2 separate regions of the Homo sapiens genome follow, and region 1 is linked to region 2. Evidence: fine-mapped expression QTL. A gene starts in region 2. The other region holds a variant in brackets. All regions are shown on one strand. Distances are from middle to middle.

Region 1 (4,000 bases), 840 kb after region 2:
CCTTGCTTTGGAAAATTTAGCTTTCAGAGATACTGAGACAAATAGTAGAAAGCAGGGTAATAGATTCTGGGGGCTGAAAGGGCCCATAGAGATCCAAATCCCTCACAATACAGTCAGGAAAACTGAGAGCCAGTGAAGTGAAGACACTTAGGTTCACTCAGCTTGTTAGTGGTATAGGTGGATCTAGGACCTGTGTCTTTAAACTCATGTTTGCCTTTTCCTACAGCAGTTTGCATCTCCCAGAGAATACTGTAAATTTATTTGTGACCCTGCCATTTTTTAGGATAGGAAAGGAGAAAGTATCCCAGATGACTTCAGAGTCTGGTCAGAGTGGTTCCTTGATCCTTTGAAAGCTAATTTTGACCGAAGTTCAGCCTTACTGGATAGCAAAGCCCATGAGTGAGGCACTCATTTTTTCAGTTATTATTGCTATTACTCTGAATACTAGCACCTCTCTCCTTCTGAGCTAAGATGACTAAATCAAAAGGAGACTTTCAGCTAAGGAGTCCCTGAAGGGAGACTGTGCCAAATCATTTGGAACCAGGATAAGGCTGGATAGAATGATACCAGATTTGGCTGTGCTTTCCAGGGGAGTAGGCTCAGTTCCAAGAATCCTGCAAGTGAGAATATTTTTATTTCAGTTGTTCAAATGGATGTGTGGAGTCATTATGATGTATATTAATTGGAGAATCTATCTCTTAGCAATTGCAGCACAGTAAAATTAACCACTTATGAAAGTAGGTGATATGCAGATATACTGAGGTGGAAAATGGTGTAAACTACAGTCAGAATCAGATCACACATTTGGGGCAATTGTTTTTGCAATGGTTCCTGTTGAACACAGATTCTTTGGCCAAATGCAGTTTATTTTGGGGCTCAACTGGGAAAGTTGTAGAGTTCAAGTTGTACAGACTACTCAAATCTGAAGACATCAAATGAATAAACACATTTATGGGTTGTTTTGGTTTGAAATAAGTGAGTTGGGGTTTTAAAAGACAGGCCAGCCTGCTGGGCTTGGTGGCTCACGCTGTAATTCCAGCATTTTGGGAGGCCGAGACAGGTGGATCACCTGAGGTCAGGAGTTCGAGACCAGCCTGGTCAACATGGCGAAACCCCGTTTCTACTAAAAAATACAGAAATTAGCTGGTTGCAGTGGCAGGCGCCTGTAATCCCAGCTACTGGGCAAGCTGAGGCTGGAGAATCGCTCGAAACCGAGAGATGGAGGTTGCAGTGAGCTGAGACTGTGCCATTGCACTCCAGCCTGGGAGACAGACCAAGACTCTGGCTCAAAAAAAAAATAAAAAAAAGATAGGCTGCCTATCTATACTATAGCTCTCTGTCATGGCTCAAGCAAAGAGAACAAAGCTGTTTATAGTAAAATGAGACTTTCTAAAAGCACTAACAATCAGGGCAATGGTTCCCCGGTGGTCTATGATTTATTTTAAAAGCTTTTGGCAAAAAGGTTTATTTATTCTTCAGATCAGTATATTTTGTGGAGAAGTTTTCTCCTAGTATCAGTTCATATACATCACAGGTAGAGTGATCAAATAGATAGATCAATACATAAGGAGTCAGAAGTCTGTGTTATAGTTCAAGTTCTGCCAATGACTGGTGTGGCCTTCGGTGAGTTATTTCATTTCTGTGCATCTCAATAATCTCATCTATTATAATGGGAGAGGGCTTGGAATAGATGGTTCCTAATTTCCTTCCTAGCAATCCAATGATTTGAGTTAGACTGTTAGATACCTAAGAATAGTTAAATGTTATGGAGTGGTGAATAATGGGGCCATAATAGGGAAATCTATCTAGAGAGGACATTCTGGAAATGTAGTTCAGATCTCCAAGAGAACTGAGTATCCTTTCCCAATTGCCATTATATTTCTTTCAGGTAATGTTATCATGACAGCTTCAACTTTTAGACCACAGGCAAATGCTTTGTAAGTAATTTCCCTTTTTTAAAAATGAGAAAATGCAAGA[C/A]AAAAGATAAAACTTTCTGAAATCTAATTTCCACAGTGACAATGACACTCAGTTGGCATTTCTCAATCTTTTAAACCCAAGGTTCCCTTTGAGAAACGTAAACATTTCACTACAAGGTTACTGTGAACTTGCCTTCCTAGGGACCAGACCCTGGACTTGTAGAAAAATCTGCTCCATCACATTGACATTTTCCAAGTACTAAGTGCCCAACAGTTAAGAGGATTTTGTAGATCTGTACTTTCACAGTTTGTATTGTAGAAACAATAATGACATTTTTTATTTTGTTTTCCAAATATATTTGTTATAATAAGGAATATGTTTTATCAAGTAACACTTATTTTCTACCCTTTAACTTTAAAAATTACTGCTCTAGATATTCTAGTCCTCTGCTACAACTACACTTCTTAGGGGATTTTCTAAATCCAGAAATGTACAGGATCCAACCAAAGGCCCTTGGAGATGACTCTGTGTACAAATAAAGAGGAAATGAACTCACATTTATTTAATACTTATTGGGTATCAGACATGAAAATAGGTACTTTTACACACATTTTCTTTTTTTCATTTCTATTTCAATATTTTTTGAACTACAAGTGTTTTTTTCTGTTGCATGGGTAAATTATATAGCAGTAAATTCTGAGATTTTTAGTGCACCCACCACCTCAGTAGTGCACGTTGTACCTAATGTGTAATATTTTTATGCCTAGCCTGTCTCACCCACCCTCTTCTGAGTCTCTAGATTCCATTATATCACTCTGTATACCTTTGCATAATCATAGCTTATCTGTCACTTATAAGTGAGAACATCTATTTTTTTTATTTTTCACTCCTGTGTTACTTTACTTAGAATAGTGGACTCCACCTCCATCCAAGTTACTGCAAAAATACATTATTGCGATCCTTTTTATGGCTGAGGAGTATTACATAGTGTATATACACCACATTTACTTTATCCACTCGTTAGTCAATTGGCACATAGATTCATTCCACATCTTTGCAATTGTGATTAGTAGGATTGCTGTATCAAATGGTAGATTTACTTGTAGCTCTTTAAGGAATCTCCATACTGTTTTCTATAGAAGTTGTACTAATTTACATTTCTACCAGCAGTGTAGAAGCTTTCTCTTTTATCCACATATCTACCAGCATCTATTTTTTTTTCACTTTTTAATAATAGCCATTCTTGCAGTAACGTGCTATTTTATTCTGGTTTTAATTTGCATTTCTCTGACGATTAGTGATGTGGAGCATTTTTTCGTGTTTGTTGGCCATTTGTATATCTTCTTTTGAGGAATCTCTATTTATGTCCTTTGCCCACTCTATAATGGGATTATTTCTCTTTCTATTGCTGACTTGTTTGAGTTCCTTGTAGATTCTAGTTTCTAGTCCTTTGTCAGATGCATAGTCTGCAAATATTTTCTCTCATTCTGTGGGTTGTCTGTTTACTCGGATTATTATTTTCAGACACATTTTTCTTTAATGCTCAAAACAAATTATGTGGCAGGAACCATTCTAATTTTACAAAAGAGGAAACTGAAGCCTGGTGATATGAAGTGAATTGTTTCAGGCCAGAGAACCGACAATTGAGACATGATATGATACCAGGTCTTCCAAAGAACATGATTATTTCCACCCATAAAATGCTGCCACAGCTGCAAAAATGATATCTAATTAGGCCGCCTTCCTAAATGATTGAAAGTCCAATACATATTCCTGCATGAAAGTTCAAATTCAAACTTTAAGTTGTTGTTTTGTTAATGGTCTAATTGCTTTAATTCATTTTAAGGATAAAAATAATTTTCACTTCCTCTAACAGAAGAAAATGTCTGTACTTGCAGAATGTGTCCAAATTTGTGTGTATCTCATGTCAACCAGGCTTATTTGGAGTTGATGTAGATTTATTCAGGAAACAGCAGAGTTTCCAATTCTAGCTGCTACTCTTTGGTTCTGGTTGTAAGCGGCTGAATGAAGAACACCGGGGTCATGGAGATCAGATTGGCTTGGATAATTCATGTGAAATTTA
Region 2 (4,000 bases):
GCTGGTGGCAGGCCAAGTTTTCATTTGTATAGGAGTGTAACTTTGTAACTTCACTTCAGCCTCTGATTGGTCACTTTCTGCAACCAATCAGACTGACCATGGACCACTACTTCATTTGCATGGGGTATACACCAAGTGGCTAATGGGAAACCTCTACCGGGTATTTAGACCCCAGAAAATTCTGTAACCAAGCTCTTGAGCTGCTTGCTCAGGCCTGCTCTCACCTTGTGGAGTATACTTTTGAAACCGCCTTTGCAAAAATCATAACTGAGGAAATTATGACAGTGAAAGAGATCAGACCTAACCTACCCTATCTTCCTTCTAACTTCTAAAATGTCTTTGTTCATTCCTGGGTATAGGCCAAACTAGCCTTGGGAAAGAATTTATAGTGTAAACTCTGAGACAAAATTGATAACAGCCCTTTCCCCTTCTTGCTGGGACCAGTCTGCCTTTCTTTGTAGGTGTAACAAATTAGCTACAAGATTATAAATTACAGTTTAGGGGCCATGCAGCCTCTGGCTGCAAGAATCTGAACCTCCCCAAATTGCTTCTGGGAATAACATCACCATTGCAAATCCTAAGATCAGTGCTTGAGATATTTTGCAGACCCTGCATTCTCATGCAGCAGAGGACACCACCCAGACTGATAATCTGGCTCAACTAGCTCCACGATCCCACCCAGGAAGAACTCGCAAGAACTCACTTCGACCCCGTGATTTAATCTTCATCCCGACCAACTAGCACTCCCCACTTTCCGAACCCATACCTGCCAAATTATCCTTAAAAACTCTGATTCCAGAATGCTCAGGGAGACTGATTTGAGTGATAATGAAACTCTGGTCTCCCGCACAGCGCTCAGCGTGAATTATTCTTTCGCCATTGCAATTCCCGTCTTCATAAATCAGCTCTGTCTAGGCAGCGGACAAGGTGAACCCATTGGGCGGTTACACTTTCGTTTTCAATACATCTCTGCTTTTATTGCTTCATTCTTTCTTTGCTTTGTGCATTTCGTCCAGTTCTTAGTTCAAGACGCTAAGAACTTGGACACCCTCCACGGGTAACAGGACTACAGGTGCCCGCCACCACGTCTAGCTAATTTTTTGTATTTTTAGTAGAGATGGGGTTTTGCTATGTTGCTCAGGCTGGTCTCGAACCACTGGGCTCAAGCAATCTGCCGGCCTTGGCCTCCCAAAGTGCCGGGATTAAAGGCGTGAGCCACCGCGCCTGGCCCACTAAACTTCTCTGTGCATCAGTTATTTCATTTGCCTAATGAGGATAACAGTAGTCACTACTGCGTTTTGTGAGCGTTGGTTAATATATGAAAAATGCCACGTGTTTGCCATTAGCATCAATCATGCCATAACCAGAAAAATTACATTGCATTTTTTATTTTAAAAAAGGTGGGGGCCAGAGTGGACCTGGGCCTCTTCCAACTTCTGAGAGGTCTCTATTACTAAGTAAGCCTTAAGAAGCAGAATTCCATGAAGGGAGCTAGGAAACCAGGATTTTCCAAAAGGAGGTGGCATTTGCATTGATCCTGGTAGGGCAGCCTCGAATTCCACGGGGTTGGGGTTGCGCCTTTTCCAAGGCAGCCCTGGGTTTGCGCAGGGACGCGGCTGCTCTGGGCGTGGTTCCGGGAAACGCAGCGGCGCCGACCCTGGGTCTCGCACATTCTTCACGTCCGTTCGCAGCGTCACCCGGATCTTCGCCGCTACCCTTGTGGGCCCCCCGGCGACGCTTCCTGCTCCGCCCCTAAGTCGGGAAGGTTCCTTGCGGTTCGCGGCGTGCCGGACGTGACAAACGGAAGCCGCACGTCTCACTAGTACCCTCGCAGACGGACAGCGCCAGGGAGCAATGGCAGCGCGCCGACCGCGATGGGCTGTGGCCAATAGCGGCTGCTCAGCAGGGCGCGCCGAGAGCAGCGGCCGGGAAGGGGCGGTGCGGGAGGCGGGGTGTGGGGCGGTAGTGTGGGCCCTGTTCCTGCCCGCGCGGTGTTCCGCATTCTGCAAGCCTCCGGAGCGCACGTCGGCAGTCGGCTCCCTCGTTGACCGAATCACCGACCTCTCTCCCCAGCTGTATTTCCAAAATGTCGCTTTCTAACAAGCTGACGCTGGACAAGCTGGACGTTAAAGGGAAGCGGGTCGTTATGAGGTAATTCTGCACGTTTGCCCGCGTGCTCTCTGTGCTCTGTCGCAAACCTCTTTGGCCGGAGCCGACTTGTTCTCTCGTCTGCTCTAAGTTCTTTTAGCTTTTGGCTGGGCCCCAGGGGTCCTAGGCTTGGAGGGCGAGGCTGCTCACGGGTTTGGTGGTTTCTAGCCGCATTTTCCCCAGCCCAGAAAGCACCCGAAGTCACCCTTCGGGGATGGATCCCACTGAGGAAGGGCTGAGATTGCCGCTGGGACCCATTTTGTCCTTTTTCCTATTGGTGAAATGCAGTTCCGTTGCCTCCAGCTCCCAGTCGGCGAGATGGGACTTAATGCTTATCCTGCAAATCTCTAGGCTTCAAGGAAGGGACCTTGAAAGGTCATTTTACTTTCCCTTCCCCCACGCTCCTAGACCGTCGCAGCCAAATGAGAAACGGCCCACATCTCACAGGTTCCTGCACAAAAGGATATTTTTCCAAGAGGATGTTGATTTAACTTCAGGAGTAGACCCCCCCGCCCCCCGCCACTAAAGAATTGGGGTGGGAGGGTAGGGCGGGGCGAACTGGAGGAGGCCCTGCAGAGCTTACGTAACAGGCGTCTGCTGCCCTGCAGCGCGGTATCGTTGGACTCTTGGGCACAGGATTTGCATCAGGATTGTGACATACTAGGTAATGGTAGAGCAGGGTGTGGCTGCTCATACTTGCTGGCCTCCAATCTCATCCCCACGTGTGGCTAGAAAAGTAGAATTTTAAAATTGGGGGAAGTTTCCTCGTGCACTTTGGGTCTCTTACTCTGCGCATGTGGATCTCTAGTCACTTGCCAACACGGTTTCTCTCTTATCTGCCAGAATTGTTGGTAGAGTGGGCAGCTTTTACATTTATCCTTTTTGTCACGTGTGATATATTTGTGCATACCAGGAGCAAGGTGCAGGAGGATGAGTCGGTATGTAACTGATGGACTTGACTGTTCATATACCTTAACAGGATCCAAGAGTGGTGTTTTTGAGGGGTCATAAAGGTTTCTGTTGATAGCATTTTGCAACCTTGACCTTTTTGGGAAGTGGTTGATTGATGGGTAGGTATTTATTTGGCTGGTGTAATCTAGCCCCTTTTCCAATTTGGGCTGGTTCAAATGAGGGCTTGTGTTGGATATTAACAGACACGTAAGTCAGTAGGAGATCTCCCTTTACTCTAACTTTAAACATATGAGGACACGTTTGAGTTAGGGAACTGTATGGGTACCCTAAAAGGACATGTAGCTCTCCTCTTCTCTCTAATTTCACTTTGGTCAATATTTTTGCAGGTAACCGCTGCCCTGCTGTGGAGATAGAAGAACCCAATAATTTATGTCCATGAAAAATACCTGGTTTCCACATTTCCCCAAATGACATAGGCCTTTGTAATCTGGACAAAGTAGGAGTCACAGCCATGTTAGTACTAGAGGAGTGCCCTTTCTGGCCCTCATACAATCCTAAAAAAAGGGGATAGACCCTGTAAAAAACAGGACAGGTGGACATTGGCATGCAACTAGCTTTTAGGTTTTAATTAGTTCCTTGCATCTCCCCTGTGTTCGACGCTGATTCTTCCAGATGCATGGACCAACTAACAGACAAGGAGTGGGACATTATGCTGATAACCTTCCTGTAATTGCAGTCTTGGGCTTTATTTCCTCTCTCTCTAGGGAAACTGGCTTGAGGAAGCTAGCTGGGGGCGGGATTGGAGGAGCTGCTTAACTTTTCTCCCTCTGGACCTAATAAAGTTTCATTTAGCACACGCTAACCCAAAGCCTTGAAATGATTGGCTAGTCCTGTTTTGCTGATGGAAAATGACCTGTTCAGGGTTACTGAACTACCAAGT

What was found. PIP is the estimated chance that this variant, and not a neighbour inherited with it, causes the effect.
Region 1: its variant is the best candidate, but not a certain one, in a credible set for the expression of PGK1 in whole blood (TOPMed, PIP 0.68).

Annotation. Positions count from the first base shown.
Region 1 is chrX:78,945,927-78,949,926 of GRCh38, forward strand. It overlaps P2RY10 (P2Y receptor family member 10), which reads left to right. Exons shown (of 4, transcript NM_014499.4): 2 at 1,889-1,937. Among named protein-coding and RNA genes, the nearest start is that of P2RY10, 2.5 kb to the left of the region's middle. The variant C/A (reference allele first, on the strand shown) is at 1,978.
Region 2 is chrX:78,102,255-78,106,254 of GRCh38, forward strand. It overlaps PGK1 (phosphoglycerate kinase 1), which reads left to right and starts at 1,994. Exons shown (of 11, transcript NM_000291.4): 1 at 1,994-2,151. The coding sequence starts at 2,087. RefSeq lists a silencer at 1,881-1,940.